Linked DNA regions of Homo sapiens: region 1 is linked to region 2. The links come from fine-mapping of genetic effects on gene expression. A gene starts in region 2. The other region holds a variant in brackets. All regions are shown on one strand. Distances are from middle to middle.

Region 1 (4,399 bases), 30 kb before region 2:
TGGCACACATGGTTTGGGGAACTCAGACCCACCTCTTTCTCACTCTAAATTCTCCCCATGAAGACAGGCAAACCTCCTGCTCTGGATGTTCCCAAACTAGGTGAGCTCAAGCAACCTCAGAGCAGTGAGTCTCCCCATTCACCTCCCCTCTCCTCATACCTGAACCGATTATCCGGTGCAAGGCCCCAGTGCAGAGAAGTCTTTCTGATAGCTGGGATGCCCTTTAGAAAGTGCACCCAAGTCCATCAGTGGATGAGAGTGGAACGCTTTTCCTCAGCGAGAAGCCTCAAGAGAAAGCAGTTTGTGTCCCCAGCGGACATTAGCCCCCAGAGGTTGGCTCATCATTTTCCAGTCCCACCATGGGACAAATCCCATCTGTTCCTTCAGACTCACCTCTGCATTGCATCCTAAAACATTGAGACAAATTTAACCCTCAGACTCTCAAAAAGAAACATCTACTTTTCTTGTGTAATACAGCGTGGTCCCTATGCAAAGAATCCTCAACTTGGCCTCCTCGATCTTTTATAACCAAGAGCAGAATAAGGAGGCCAGGGCTAAGGAGAAAGAAAAATGCAGGGAAGAAAGGCAGGCTCAATTGTTGGCTGATTTAGAAGCCCTCAGCTCCCTCCAGGTTGCCCTAAGGACACTCCTCCAGGTAAGTGCCCTCAGTGCAGATGGCCAGGCCACTGGAAGGCAAACTGCCCCAATGGGATACATGGGAAAAAGCCCCGCACAGCTTGTACCCTCTGCCACAAGCTCAGCTGCTGAAAATGGGACTGTCCTGAGGGCTGAAAGACCCTGAGGACAGAATTCTAGCCCCTGATGGCCTTAAAATGAAGTGGGCTCTCTGCCCCCGCTGAATTCCAAATCACAGCAAAACAAAGCCAAGGGTGACTCTGGAGGTGGCAAGTAAAATTATCAATTTCCCCTTGAGTTCAAGAGCTCCCTGTCATAGAGATGCCTCCTCTACCCCTTTCTGGAAATACCTTTTGCTTATATGGTAAAAATCTGGAAAATCACTATCTGGAGTTTAACAGGCTTTTAGATTCAGTCACCATTGGAACTGAGTACACCATTAAAAGGAAAAGGCAAAATTAAAAGAAGCATGCGTAATAATTACATGGCTAGTCCTAGAAAGTTCTCTTGAGCAGTTAAAATCCTTTGCAAGCTTGAAATGCTCTAAACTCCTCCCGGAAAAAAACAACAGCAGTTATCTTGCACTATAGTTCACTGGTCCCCAATCTTTTTGGCACCGGGGACAATTTTTCCCCATGGAAAACAATTTTTTCATGGAAGACAATTTTTCCACAGACCAGGGAGGGTGGGTGATGATTTGGGGATGAAACTGTTCCACCTCAGATCACCAGGAATTAGATTCTCCTAAGAAGCATGAAACCTAGATCCCTTGCATGTGCAGTTCACCATAGGGTTCATGCTCCCGTGAGAATCTAATACCCTCGCTGATCTGAAAGGAGGCAGAGCTCAGGCAGTAATGCTTGCTTGTCTGCCCCCGACTTACCTCCTGCTGAGCGGTTCGGTTCCCAACAGGCCATGGACCAGTGCCAGTCTACTGCCCAGGGGTTGGGGACCCCTGCTGTAGCTCAACTGCTAAAGCTTTGCCCTCTCACAGTGGTGCCCTGGGTTCAATTCCTGGCTCCAAAAGTGAGTCTTTTGTGGTTTAATCATTTATTGATTCTTTTCCCCTCCATGGAGAGCTCCTAATTTCCTGTCTTGAAATTTTCTTTTCTCTGAGTTACCTTTGGGGCAATTCTAGATCTTGTAAATTGCTTACCATCTCTTTGGAGACACCTTGTGTGTCCCTGTTTAAGTTATCCCCTTACTTAAGGTTTATTAATTTCACATAGGAGGTTACCTTTAGGTAAAGATTCAAAAGCCAGAAATATTGGCCATTTGTCCTGGCTAAAATCTGGTAATAAAAGATTTTTATAGGATTTTTATTTTGAGAACTCCATAGTCAGAAATCAACTTAATTAAAGACGATATTTGGGCTGTATGTATACAGATATTGTTTTAAAAGCCCCTGCTGGCCAGGCACAGTGGCTTATGCCTATAATCCTAGCACTTTGAGAGGCCAAGGTGGACAGATCGCTTGAGCCCAGGAGTTTGAGACCAGCCTGAGCAACTTGGTGAAACACCATCTGAACAAAAAAAAAATACAAAAATTAGCTGGATGTAGTGGCAGGCACCTGTAGTCCTAGCTACTCAGGAGGCTGAAGTGGGAGGATCACTTGAGCCCAGGAGGCTGAGGCTGCAGCGAGTTGTGATCGCACCACTGCATTCCAACCTGGCGACAGAGCGAGACTCCATCTAAACAAACAAAAAGCCCCTGCTTTCCCTCTAAGAACTTCTCAGTCAATGGAATTTTGTCTTGATTTTCCATTTCTGTCTGTCTGTGTATTTATATGTGTTGTATGTATAGTATTTATATAAAAGAGCTCTAATTAATTGGCTTAAAGAAACTAAAATCAAACATTTTATCAGAAAAAATTGAAACTTTAATCTCTTTTAGGTCACGTGACTCTAATGATTTTTAAACATAAAGACAGTGTAAATAACATAAAAAATAAAGACAGTGTAAGTAAAGAATGTGTTTTGGTGGGAGGTTATAAGAAGGCGTGTGAATATGGTTTCTGTTAAAGAGAACGTAATTTTGTCTAGCTCAGAGGGTTTTAACTATTGGCCTCACCTAAAAGAGTAATGGGACAGCTGGGCATGGTGGCTCA[C/T]GCCTGTCATCCCAGAACTTTGGGAGGCTGAGGTGGGGAGATCACTTGAGGTTAGGAGTTCCAGACCAGCCTGGCCAACATGGCAAAACCCCGTCTCTACTAAAAATACAAAAATTAATCAGGTGTGGTGGTGAGCGCCTGTAATCCCAGCTACTTGGGAGGCTGAGGCAGGAGAATCACTTGAACTCGGGAGGCGGAGGTTGCAGAGAGTCGAGATTGTGCCACTGCATGCCAGCCTAGGTGACAGAGTGAGACTCTGTCTCAAAAAAAAAAAAAAAAAAAAAGAGTAATGTGACAAAACTGATGGTTTAAGCAAGTTGAAAAGGGTTTGTGAAGGGTTAATCTCATGAAAAGTTCTGTGGGTATAAGCAGGTTGGCTAAGATTTAAAGGGGATTACTTAGTTTTTCCATAGGTCGAACACTGAAATAAAAGCACACTGATGTAGGGCCAGAATCCGGGCCCATGTGTCTGAATAATGGTTTTCTAGAGAATTTATTTGTTTAACAGAAAATTGTAAAGAATTATGAGAGGTTTGTGGACGTTTTACCTTATGGTCAAACTATGATTGTATAGATTTGTTTATAAGGTTTTATTAAGAATTGGATCTAACATTAATAATATACTAATGCAAAGGTGAAATTTTGCTTTCTCTCATAAACAAGATTTTTGCATAATATTTTAAAATAATGAGATTTTTGTTTACCTTTTAATAAACAACAGAAAAAGGAGGAGAGAGGAAATAGATTCGGTTGGCATCATGCTGTCTTTATTGCGACCTGCTTGGAAAGTTGACTCTCCCCTCTATCAGCAAGTAAAGATTTTTGCCTTTTAGAAATTTTGGAGTTATCATTTTGGCTACCTAAATGACTTGTAGTGACTCTATACTAATCTTCTCTGAGCAACTCTCCTCCATATCCTGTTGGGTAATGAGAACAAGTGGCACCCCCTCCCTCCAAAAAATCCATACCCCTTTATATTACAGAAAAGAAATCTTCAGAAAAGAGACATGCTACAATGAGACTACCATACAAGATGTGAAAGTTACCCCCCAAATTACAATATCATGAGACAAAATAAGGGAGAGCTGCTGTCTCTCAGTGTTTGTCCCTAGTAAGGACAACTAACCACTGAGCAAACGGACAACTGCACAGCCTTCTTTTACTCACAGAGTGTTGTCCACCTGCAGAGCCAAGTCCTCTCAATCTATCTGCACACTGCTGTGCACTTCTAGGCTCTCAGATGTTTTTAGGTCTACAAGTCCATATAACCACTCTAAGCCATGCGTCTTAAAATATGCCCTCATTTTCCATTGTTAAGCCATTGAATACAGACTGGTAGGTCACGTGGCTTCTGTAACACAGTCTAGGTCACATCGGTTAATGCTCTACGCGAATGGGACCCTGGAGGTCCTTACTCCTGCTCTCTTCTCCAGAGTAGGTTATACCTAAACCATCCTGCATCAGCCTTTCCCAAGGTCAGGGCTGTGCTGAGGGTGTAACAAGCATGGACAGTAGCCTAGCTTTCTTGGGAGATTTAAGTCTCGGGCTTCTAAAGGTTAAATATTGGTTTGTCTATAATGGGGAGAAGAAAAACAGTGGTATAACTATGTAAAATGATGGATATATTAATCTGCTTCACCATAGTAAACTTTTTA
Region 2 (4,399 bases):
CAAATGGATGAACCTTGAAAACATGCAAAGTGAAAAAAGCCAGTCACCAAAAGCACATATTGTGTAATTCCATTTACTTTATTTTTATTTATTTATTTATTTATTTATTGAGGCAGGATCTCATTCCATCGCTCAGGCTGAAGTGCAGTGGTGCAATCCCAGATCACTGCAACTCCGACCTCCCAGGTTCAAGTGATTCTTCTGCCTCAGCCTCTCAAGAATCTGGGATAACAGGGGCATGTCACCACACCTGGCTAATTTTTTTTTTTTTTTTTTTTTTTTTTTGTATTTTTTGGTAGAGATAGGGTTTTACCACGTTGGCCAGGCTGGTCTCAAACTTCTGACCTCAAATGATCCACCCACCTCGGCCTCCCAAAGTGCTAGGATTACAGATATTATTCTATTTATATGAAATGTCCAGAATAGGCAAATCAATAGATACAAAAAAATAGACTGGTGGTTGCCAGGGGCTAAGGGAAATGGAGAGTGAGGAGTGATTGTTAATGGGTATCAAGTTTCTCTTTGGGGTGATGAAAATGTTCTAAAATTGATAGTGGTAATTATTGCATAACTGTGAATATACTAAAAACCATTCAATTATGCCCTTTAAGACAGTAAATTGTATGGCATGTGAATAATATGATAAACCAGTTGTTTCTTTTTTGTTTGTTTTTGTTTTTGTTTTTTGAGACGGAGTTTCTCTCTTGTCGCCCAGGCTAGAGTGCAATGGCGAGATCTCAGCTCACTGCAACCTCTGCCTCCTGGGTTCAAGCGATTCTCCTGTCTCAGCCTCCCGAGTAGCTGGGATTACAGGCGCCCGCCACCACGCCTGGCTAATTTTTTTTGTATTTTTTAGTAGAGACGGAGTTTCACTATGTTGGTCAGCCTGGTCTCGAACTCCTGACCTCAGGTGATCCAGCTGCCTCGGTCTCCCAAAGTGCTGGGATTACAGGCAAGAACCACCACACCCTGCCACCAGTTATTTTTTAAAAGGCAAAAAATCTATTCCACAAGTACATAGAGATTGTAAAATCAACTTTAAATGTTTGATTGAATTATATGGTCTGCTGGACTTGACAGATGCTCTTCAAAGCAAAATGACATTAGATTTAAGAAAACACCATTTCCAGATTTTTTTTCTCAATAAGACAATATTTGAATATTTCTCGTGTGTGTGTGTGTGTGTGTGTGTGTGTGTGTGTGTGTGTGAAAGAGAGAGAGAGAGGACTGGGTTTATTAGGAGTGACAGTAGGCCAGCCTAAATATCATACTGCAAAGTAATTTAGCTTAAAAACTGGAGACTTATGATGACACAGGCAGCTGGGAGGGATCGGGGGTGTGCTGGCAACATGAATATTAGTCACCAGTTAAAAACTTTCCAGCCTTAACTGCTAAGATTTAGGACATCTGAAGTCTTTATATTAAACTATTTATATTTATATAATATTAAATATCTCTTTCAGAAATCCCCATTACCCTCAAGGAAATTTTATAAATTTAGCAATTCACTCTAATACTAGATATACTAATATTTTATTTCCCAGGAAGACACACATACACAAAATCCAGGAAATAATTGTACCTTAAGATGAAGGTAATTAGGCTGGATTGAAATTTATGCAATTTGAAAATTATATGAAAGCAAAACTCACCTAATTTTAAGATGTGAATGTCAGTGTGAATACCCTACTTCTGATATTACTTAATAAATTTTAACAGAATTTATATGCTCTTTCTTGTATTAAAAAAAGTTATGAAAATGCTAAAGCAGTTACTTTTTCATCGATATGCTTCTCTATAACGAATCACATCACATCCCTTCTGTGACTAGCAAATATTTCATTTTATAGACTACAATAATCACCTACAAAAAATAAAATTACCAACTGTCATGATTTTGTTTCCCAAAACTACTGGGGCAAACTACTGAATGCTAGAACTGTTTTCTTTCTAATCAGGGTATACAGCGCCCAAACGACAGCGGTCAACCACTGATAATAACACCACAAAATAACACCGGGTGCCCCCAAAGCCAGAGCTCTTTGTGGTTCCATCAAGTATGCTATCACCAAACTACAATGACAGGTCACGCAAGGTGAAAAAGCTCCCAAAGCTCAGGAAAGGACTGACAAAATACCAACTATCCTCAACGGGGTGGTGATGACATCGTCCCAACGTCCCGCTCCCTCCCTCCTTCCTTCCCAGAGCTATGCGGGGGCTTTCTGGAGACCCCCCTACCCGGAACCGGAAAAGCGACCATCTTCCCTAACCCCCCGGCCGGAAGTGGAGCGTAGCCAGCCGGAGCACTCACCCTGGAAGAACAGGACGCCCAGCAGAGGGAAGAGAGCGCAGCCACGGCTTCCAGCTGCTCCTCTCTGCTGCATCCCGGCAGCTCTTCAGATGCTTGCACACCTTGTTTACAGCTCCCGGTAACGACACAGGTAACACCGGAAGTGACGTCAGAGCAGGAGGCCGAGAGACAACTTAAATGGCGATCCGAAGTTACCATAGGAACCTGGCTTCTTTCCAGAACCACACCTGGTTTCACTGACCAGAGATTTATTAACTTTCAGGCGGGAGCTAAATGCTCTCTTTTGCTTGAAAATGAAGTAGGCTACGGACTTGGAATAATTACAATTTTGTTTTTATGGAATTCTGCAGAACTAAATAATTTTGATGCTCTGACTGCATGTCAGACATCGTTTTTACGTCTCGAGATTTAGTTGAAGGTTCTCAGAATACACTACTGTAAATTTAGAGTTCAGAAACACCTGGGAGATCATACAGTATAGATAAATATATATTAGGTGCTTGTAGTGATATGTGCCACAAGCCTCATTGGTTGGTGTCCTTTTTAGTGTAAGTATTGCAGCCTCCAAAATTGGGTGTTTATTAAATTACTTTTGGCGGTGGCAATGATGATCAAATCATTACAGCCTGTATTAGAGGAAAAGAGGAACTGGGATTTCTGTGTCTTTGGTTGGAAAAGTAAGAAAGTTATGTTATCACAGTACTTGAAGTGAGATGGCGTCACATACTTCTGAAAAAGAGATGGTACAATAAGTACACTGCTTTAATAATCAGTAAGCCTCTTCCCTGGAAATTGCCACATGTCAATGAAAGCAGGAGGAGAATAAAAGTATGCTTTCGCTTTGGGGAAGAATTAATAAGTTTCCATTTTTCAATTTCCATTCCTTTACTAGACTTGAAAGCCAGTAGTTTTCCCTATTAAAAGTGTAATGCAAAGTACTAAATAGAATCTTTGATACTTTTCTTTGAAAGAGCCCTCAAACTAAGTAGTGTTGTTATGCCCAATTCCCAGCTATCCAAAACAGTGTGAAAATTCTGTGGAAATCCGTATACTTCTGTTTACCCATTAGAAACTAACTGTATCCATTATTGACTTGCAGGTTGTCTCTACTAAGAAAACTTTTTGGTAAAGATTAAATATATATCCATCTGTTTTTCCTGCAATGTAGAACTTCTAGATATGTATATACACAAATTATATAACTGATAATTCTTTATTACTAAAGGTTTATTTACATAGTGTTTAAAGCATAATAAAAAATAAATTACAATACAAAAGTGCTCTTTAGGAAGGAGACACTAAACAACAGGCCCATATTACCCCTTGACTATTTAGCCAAGACATAAGCTACAAATTTTGCCGGAAAAACTGTCCATACATTTTTAACTACTTCTTCATTATTCTTATGGACCATCATCCAGGACATCTGTTTGAAGAAATATCCAGTTATAATATTTTCAAAGGTTAGAATTGTGAAGAAAAAATATAAAATGTGATTAAAGGATATATAGCCTTCAGATGTAATTTACAGTTTTAAAATTGCACTTTAAAACTTTGCTTTTTTAGACAGTATAAAAGGCAGAATGAGACAGATATGTAATGAATTTCAGAACTGAGGTTCATATGTAAATCATACAATTTTTTAAAAAATAGTATTGGAAAAATATCAAGGTCTATACATTTAAATACAGATAATCTGTTTGAAAATTCCAGTTTGTTAAAAGAAAAAACATCTGCAGTCCAGTCGATTAAAAACTGAAAATATCAATCTGTAAAGATTGATCTTGAGCCTAAACTTTTAGATGCTTTCTATCCTTTGAACAAATGCTTCTGTATCTTAAGCTTGTAACTTTTCTTTCAATAGCCCACTTATAAAGTTTGCTTTATCTACCAGTATGGGGGAAAAAAAGAATAAAGTTGGTTTTATTCCATTTAAAGTAGTTTTGGTATTTCTTTGCTCCATACCAAAGTCTTCCTCCCCCAAAATAAACAAGTGAATTAGAATTAAAAAAGAAAAAAAGTTAATAATTTCTTCTAGTTCTCAGAGTTTTATATAAAACTGTACAAAATTATCATCATTTAGAGTTG

What was found. PIP is the estimated chance that this variant, and not a neighbour inherited with it, causes the effect. A credible set is the group of variants that fine-mapping cannot tell apart.
Region 1: its variant is the best candidate, but not a certain one, in a credible set for the expression of MPZL3 in whole blood (INTERVAL, PIP 0.61).

The regions. Positions count from the first base shown.
Region 1 is chr11:118,220,088-118,224,486 of GRCh38, forward strand. All of the region lies in intron 1 of JAML (junction adhesion molecule like), which reads right to left. Among named protein-coding and RNA genes, the nearest start is that of JAML, 2.7 kb to the right of the region's middle. The variant C/T (reference allele first, on the strand shown) is at 2,745.
Region 2 is chr11:118,249,911-118,254,309 of GRCh38, forward strand. It overlaps MPZL3 (myelin protein zero like 3), which reads right to left and starts at 2,455. Exons shown (of 6, transcript NM_198275.3): 1 at 2,312-2,455. The coding sequence starts at 2,384. It overlaps MPZL2 (myelin protein zero like 2), which reads right to left. Exons shown (of 6, transcript NM_005797.4): 6 at 3,506-4,399. RefSeq lists enhancers at 1,775-2,336, 1,938-1,987, 2,337-2,897.